2 linked regions of the Homo sapiens genome follow. The protein of the gene in region 1 interacts with the protein of each later gene in a pairwise test. Each region holds a gene or a part of one and is shown on either strand. Other genes may lie near its edges.

The links.
Region 2: the proteins of PPP1R1B (region 1) and KLHL6 interact in binary tests that used the Homo sapiens proteins (3 or more experiments, as listed by UniProt).

What each region holds. Positions count from the first base shown.
Region 1 is NC_000017.11:39,629,836-39,633,748, forward strand, and holds part of PPP1R1B (protein phosphatase 1 regulatory subunit 1B), read left to right. Parts: intron 1-136; coding exon 137-212; intron 213-3,913. UniProt on the Homo sapiens protein: Inhibitor of protein-phosphatase 1.
Region 2 is NC_000003.12:183,549,054-183,552,966, forward strand, and holds part of KLHL6 (kelch-like protein 6), read right to left. Parts: intron 3,274-3,913; exon of another isoform or gene 3,000-3,273; intron 1-2,999. UniProt on the Homo sapiens protein: Involved in B-lymphocyte antigen receptor signaling and germinal center formation.

The sequences.
Region 1 (3,913 bases):
GGCTCAGCCTAGGTGCAGGACCCATTAGCAGTGGCTAAATCAGTCTGCTTGGGTGGCCATGGGTGGGATGGAATGGAGGGATGGTGAAGGCAAGGGCCTCTGCTGAGCCCCTTTAACCTGGCACTTCCCCTGGCAGAGAGCCTCAGGAGAGGGGCACCATCTCAAGTCGAAGAGACCCAACCCCTGTGCCTACACACCACCTTCGCTGAAAGGTACTATACCCCCACCGACCTTCCTGGCTGTCCGCCTGATCCCTGGAACTGGGCAGACGCTAGGGGAGCTTTTGTCAGTGGGGAGGGATTGTTTCGCCACACATAGCCCGCTGTCAGCGTGGCGCAACAACCCAACGTAAAGACCAATTTTTTCTCAGTCTGGCCTTGCAAAACACAGGAGTCCCGAGGCTGCAATGGGCAGCTATGGGCCTTAACATCGGGTTGTGGGCTTGAAAGAAAAGAGATGGCTGGCCTAAGACAACCAGCAGGCATCCGCGTGGAAGGGACTCCACCTGCAGCTCCTCTTCACCAGCCTGTGGTGGACCACCTCCCACCCCTGCTCATCCAGGGCGCCTTCTCCTGTGGGCTTCACCCCTGGCCTCCCCTCCCATTTGCATCCCATTTGCACAGATCTGCACACTGGTCTCCTCTTTCCTGCTTCCCTTTCTCCATGGAAAAGCAAGCCATTCCTTTTGCACACTTACTCAACACCTAGTATATGCCAGGCCAAGTTGGTGGGCATTGGGCAGAATAAGATGAGTCAGATTTGGTCCCTGCCCCCTTGGGGCTCTTTGCCTCAAAGGGTCAGGGAGGGGCCAAGTAAGGTGGCTCACACCTGAAATCCCAGCACTTTGGGAGGCCAAGGCGGGAGGACTGCTTGAGCCTAGGAGTTCGAGACCAGCTTGGGCAATACAGTGAGACCCCCATCTCTATGAAAAATTTACAAAGTGAGCTAAGCGGGCCGGGCGCAGTGACTCACGCCTGTAATCCCAGCACTTTGGGAGGCCGAGGCGGGCAGATCACCTGAGGTCAGGAGTTTGAGACCAGCCTGACCAACATGGAGAAATCCTGTCTCTATTAAAAATACAAAATTAGCCAGGCGTGGTAGCGCATGCCTGTCATCTCAGCTACTCAGGAGGCTGAGGCAGGAGAATCACTTGAACCCGGGAGGCAGAGGTTGTGGTGAGCTGAGATCGCACCATTGCACTCCAGTCTGGGCAAAAAGAGCAAAACTCTGTCTCAAGAAAAAAAAAAAAGTGAGCTAAGCATAGAGGTGCACACCTATAGTCCCAGATACTTGGGAGGCTAAGGCACAAGGATTGCTTGAGCCCAGAAGTTTGAGGCTGCAGTGAGCTATGATCGCACCACTGTGCTCCAGTCTGGGCTACAGAGTGAGAGCCTGTCTCGGGAAAAAATAAAAAAAGAAAAGGGTCAAGGAAGGTACACAAAGATGTTTAAGCTTGGATTTGAAGGATCATAGGAATTTAACAGGCAGGCAAGGGCATCCCAGGTCCAAGAAGAGGGAAGAAGGTGTGCAAAGAGAAAGAGATGCGAGTCAGAGGGGGACTTCTGGGCCAACCTGGAGGAGGCTTCGTTTCTAGTCAGGGAGCTGGGGAGATATACCTGAAGGACATAGGAGGGCCTCTTCCTGACTAAGCCCTGTTGCCTACCAACCCCCCACCTCAACTCCTGCCTGGGGCTCTTCCTGCCCGGCCAGCCCCCTCCGCTCCTGCGGAGGTTGGGAGGGAGAGCTACCGGAAGAGTATGCTGGGAAGTGGTTCGGGGGAGGGTTTAATAAGTTCCCAGCACCAGCCAAGGTCAACAGGTATACCTGTCAGCCCACTTGCCAGGGTTGGGAACAGAGAGGAGAGGCTGGGAAGGGAGGAGAGAAGGGAAGGGGTTATTTTGCTTTCCCCAGGACAGGAAAATGAAGGGTCAGAGCTGCAGCAAGTGGGCAGTGTGGCTCAGCACCTGGAAGGACCTCCCCACCTAGAGGGGTGTGTGGAAGGGCCCCAAAGCAGGCATGAGGGACAGAGTGTCATCTTCTCAGGAGAGAATTTAAGAAATCCCTCTCCCTCCCACCTTGGGCTGGGTAGGGAGAGGCTGGGTGGATGTGAGGGGAAGACCTGGCTCTTGACTGCAAGCATGGGCGAACAGGCCAGGATGAAGATGTTAGGGCCAGGGTGCTACCATGCACCGTGCAGTGGTCAAAATTGTGCACCCCCTCAACTGCCCCTTTAGGCCACATCTTAGGAGAGTCCAGGTGAGTAGAGGCAGGGAAGAGGAAAGGGATCAGGAGAGGGGTGGCCAGTCTGGGGCAAGGCTGGGGACCTTCCAACTGAAGAAGGAAGACTTGTGGTGGGGGGAGTTTGGGGCCCCACAGAGTGGGGCAGAGAAGGAGACAGCCTGGAAGGAGTGATGGGGAGACCCCAGAGAGCCCAGGAGGCATGAGGGAGGTGGGGGAAGCGAGGGAGGCTCACGGGGCACCAGCGCAAGCACCGCACACACCTTCTGTTGTCACTGTGGCTCACGAAGTGAACTCTCCTCCCCCGCTGGGGGAGAAGGAAGCTGCCTGGGCTGCCACCTGCTCTCCTGCCTTACCTCCCCCCACAGCCCTCATGGATCCTTCTCTACCAGGAGGGCACTGTTTTGTAGGCTTCAGTCCTTTTGTGGGCAAGGGAAGGTGCCCGGCAGGGTTGGGGCTTGTCAGGGAAGAATCGAGGGCCCTAGAGAGAGGGGCACAGCACTAAGTCTTAGCTTGAGGGGTTGTGCTCCAAGGCTGGAGCTCTCACACTTGGCTCAAGATGAAGCTCTGCCGCGTCCCCAAGGTCAGGGTAGGGTGATTTATTGTGCTTTTATTGCCTGGATAGCTTGCCCAGAGCCAGCAGGAGGTACTGGGCTGGGAGCTGGGGGCTGGGTGGGGCAGCGGGCACATACAAAGCACCCTCTGTGCCTGTCCCCGAGTTGGCAGGAGCATAGCACCCTGCTCACTGTGCCGGAGGTTTCCAGCCTGGCCCTACCCCTCTGGGCCTTCTGAGGGGAGGGGCCACTGGCAGACCAAGAAGGAACTGCAGCAACTCCCCATTCCCCACCCCCAGCCCCTCCTCAGCATCTTGTCTGTGGCCTGTGAACTTTGTGTCGCATATGTTCTAAGATCCTGCCAGCTCCTGCAGCCTCTCCTCAGTGGCCCCTCAACCTCTGCCATCCCCCAGAACCCCTGGCCTTGGCCCCTTTCTCTAACCCCTTGCTCCTTTCCATCTTTTGGAAACTTGTCTCCAGCTGCCCACACTGTTCCCTTCCCAGCCCTATCTGAGCAGGTCTTTGGAGGCTGGGGGGGTTGCTTTCTAGGTCACCGCAGAGGGAGCTGGGAACCTGGGGATGTGGGTCAAGATTGTGGGGGCCGCATCTGAGCATGCCGCATCCCCCGGCACAGACTGCACTGGCTGCAGACTATTATGTCCTCAGCCTCGGAATTGTTCTGTCCCTTGGAGCCCGGGGCAGGAGTATGTGGATTGGCATCTATGACTGGGCAGTGCCAGGGAGTGGGGACTATGCATCGCATGGGAGGTAGGATCAGGGTAAGCAGTGAGCCCTCAGCAGGCTGGGCACCCCCAAGAAATGGAAAGTGGCAAATCCCCAGGCCCTGGTTCCTACGCCCTGTGCCTTCTGCCTGGGCTTGAAGCTGGGAGACACTGTCTCCCGTACTGGGTACTTGGAAAATCAAGCTCTCCAGCCAGGGAATGTTAAGCTGCTGCTGTGCCCGCCTGGTCTTGCCCAGCCTAGTGCCCTATGGTGTGGGGGAGCTGCCTGGGGGCTAGCATCTTAGGACAGCTTAAGAGCCAAACATGATCAAATCTACCCCTGGCTGCCTCTGCCCTGGTCTGACACCCATCAGGCTGACCTGTCAACTTTGGCCTTTG
Region 2 (3,913 bases), on another chromosome or scaffold:
TAAAACCTAGATGATGGGTTGATAGGTGCAGCAAACCACCATGGCACGTGTATACCTATGTAACAAACCCGCGCATTCTGCACATGTATCCCAGAACTTAAAGTAAAATTTAAACAAATTTTAAAAAAGAGAATAAGTGCCAAGAAAAACAAGAATGAGTTAAGGCCATGTAGGTCTGTATTAAAAATCTGGCTAACAGCAAATGTGTTGAGGATTGCTGCTGCCACAGTGGGTACACTTGAGAACTCAAGTGAAGCCAATGATTGTAACACCAGGGTCAGGCCCTATATTTTCCACTTTTAATATTTTCCAATATTGTGGATCAGAACCAATATGATAGTAAATATTTCAGCATTATATATCTATAATCCCTTATCTGTAGTTTCAAAATTCCCAAAGTGCTGATAAATGTAAAGTTTTTTGTAACTTATTTCATGGCTAAATCCAACTTGAATGGCACTCGTCAGGTCGGGACACCTGAGTCTTGCTCTGTTGCCCCGGCTGGAGTGCAGTGGCATGATCTTGGCTCACTGCAACCTCCGCCTCCCAGATTCAAGCAATTCTCCTGCTTCAGCCTCCCGAGTAGCTGGGACTACAGGCATGTGCCACCACGCCCAGCTAATTTTTTGTATTTTTAGTAGAGATGGGGTTTCACCATGTTAGTGCTTGACTCTTAAATAGGAACAGATATCCAAAGACTACCAGATATTTAAGTATAGCCTCTAAAATAAAAGACAGAGGCCAGGTGTGGTGGCTCATGCTTGTAATCCTAGCACTTTGGGAGGCCGGGTCAGGAGGATCCCTTGAGCCCAGGAGTTTGAAACTATCTGGGCAACATAGGGAGACCTTGTCTCTAGGAAATAAATAAATACATACATAAAATAGAATAAAAGAGACAAAAACAAAGAGAAAAATACAGTGAAAACAAACAGTAAAAAACAAACAAAAACAGAAGAGTGGTTTTTTAAAAAATATAAACCTCAAAGAGATTAAGTGAAAATATGACCTATACAAAACAAGAACAGGATGTTATAAAAAGGAAGCTTCATACATAAAACAAGAAAAAAGTCTTGGAAGTTAAAAACTGAGATTCTCAACAGGTTGGAAGATAAAATTGAGAAAAATCTTCCAGAAAGTAAAACAGAAAGATAAGAGGATGGACAACAGGAGAGAGAAGATGAGAAAGCTAGAGACTGTTCTAGAAGTCCACATCTACTGAATAAGTGATCCAGAAATAGTAAACAAGGAAAACAGTAACCATGTAATTACCAGGCAGTAATATGAGGAAATGTTCAGGATTAAAGGATGTGACTCTCCAGATTAAAAGGGTTCATCAAATGCATAGCATAATGGTTGGAGTAAAACACACATACACACACACACACGCACGCACACACACACCCCTCCAAGGCACATCATTGTGAAATATCAAAATGTTATTTAAAATCAAAGAAAGGCCAGGCGTGGTGGGTGGCTCACAGCTGTAATCCCAGCAATTTGGGAGGCGGAGGTGGGTGGATCACCTGAGGTCAGGAGTTCCAGACCAGCCTGGCCAACATGGTGAAACCCTATCTCTACTAAAAAAATACAAAAATTAGCCGGGCATGGTGGTACATCCTGTGGTCCCAGCTACTTGGGGGGCTGAGGTGGAAGAATTGCTTGAGCCCAGGGAGGCTGCAGTGAGCCATGATCAAGCTGCTGCACTCCAGCCTGGGCAACAGACCAAGACCCTGTCTCAAAACAAAACAAAAATATATGCGAGGCCTTAAAAATTTACTTCCTATGGGCTGGGCGCAGTGGCTCACGCCTGTAATCCCAGCACTTTGGGAGGCCAAGGTGGGTGGATCACGAGGTCAGGAGATTGAAACTATCCTGGCTAACATGGTGAAATCCTGTCTGTACTAAAAATAAAAAAAAATTAGCTGGGCGTGGTGGCGGGCGCCTGTAGTCCCAGCCACTAGGGAGGCTGAGGCAGGAGAATGGCATGAACCCAGGAGGCGGAGCTTGCAATGAGCGGAGATACTGCCACTGCACTCCAGCCTGGGCGACAGAGCAAGACTCTGTCTCAGAAAAAAAAAAAAAAAAAAATTACTTCCCATGCACTCTTTCTTAGGAAGTTATTGGAGAATGTGCTTATCAGGGTAAGATGGTAAACCAGGGAAGAGAAAGATAGGGGTTGAAGGGAGAAGGCTCCATTCAACATAGCAGACAGTCCCGGGGAATGATGGAGAAGCAGGTGAATCCCAGCCAGCGTGCAAATCCAGGGAACATGTGTAACATGATGCAAGGCAGGAGGATTCTGAGGAAATGGAACTGGTAGATTGTTTGATGCATTGGACCATATGAAAGATTTTTGTGAGCCTGTGAGCAAAAGACACCCCAAAACAAAGCAAATGAAAAAATGAGTGAATTAATAACTTCAGGAAAGACAAAAGGTTTACAAGAAAAGAAACGTGATCATTGAGTAATTTGGCTCAACAGAGAACAAGGTTTTCGTGAACATAATAATGTAAACTCTTGTTGTGATAACATTATGTTGAAAGATTACAGGGAAGGAAAGCTTATGGTAAGAGGTTAGGTAAGGATACTAAATCCTTATTTGAAATCAGTGAATGATGTCTAACACTGAAAAATCAAGAAAGAGCAGTATAAGTGTATTTTGCAGAAATATAGAGCTAGTGCCAGAAGAAACAAATAGAAGTTGAAAGTGGTAGCCTTTGGCGCATGAGACAGGGTGGAGGAGGAAATAGGAATTTTTGTTTTTTCATTATAAGCCTTTAAATACTATTTAACGCTTTGTTTACTATTTGCATATCTTTAATAAAAAATAAAATTTAATTTTAAAAAAATACATGAAAAACAGAAAGGCAGTGAAGAGACAGTTCAACAAAAAAAGAACTGCAGATGCCCCTTAAACATACGAAGAGATGTTTGATCTTACTAAAAATAAGAAAAATGCAAATTAAAGCTAAATTGAGATATTCTTTCTCATTTATCAGATTGGTAAAACTTCAGCGGTTGGATGACACCCTCTTTTGGTGATGCCGTGGGGGAACGCAACATGATTCAACCCCAATGAAAGAGAAGTTGCAATAACCGCTAAGACTGCAGATGCATTTGACTCAGCAAACCCCCTTCAAGAAATGCATATGAAAAAAACTCATGTTTCAGGTTATTCATTACAACATTGTTTGTAATAGCAAAATGTGGATTAGAAATAGTCCAGATGTCTGTCCGTAGGGGACTGTTTAATAAACTATTGTCAGTCCCTTAGTGGAAAGTAATTATTTTCTCAGTGAATAAAGGAAAAAAATGACATAATTTTATAACCAGCTTCCAGGCCCTCCAAAACACAGAGAGCTGTGTTGAAAGCCTCACAGACTGGTCGGGCGCGGTGGCTCACGCCTGTAATCCCAGCACTTTGGGAGGCCGAGGCGGGTGGATCTCGAGGTCAGGAGATGGAGACCATCCTGGCTAACACAGTGAAACCCCGTCTCTACTAAAAATACAAAAAATTAGCCGGGCGTGGTGGCAGGTGCCTGTAGTCCCAGCTACTCAGGGGGCTGAGGCAGGAGAATGGCCTGAACCCTGGAGGCGGAGTTTGCAGTGAGCAGAGATTGTGCCACTGCACTCCAGCCTGGGCGACAGAGCGAGACTCCGTCTCAAAAAAAAAAAAAAAAAAAAAAAAAGAAAGCCTCTCAGACAGAGAGACTCTTTGACCTCCCTAAACCTGAGCATACGAAGAACCCCTTTCAAAACCTCAGACACAAAGCGAGAGAGTGTGTCAGATTTAACGTCAGTCCTAGGTCTAAATCCCAGCTTGGCTACTTTTTATTTGCTGTGACACTCTGGACTTTGGCTCACCGTCGGTAGGCTGGGGATAGGACTCCCTGCCTTGTCAGGTTGTTGTGAG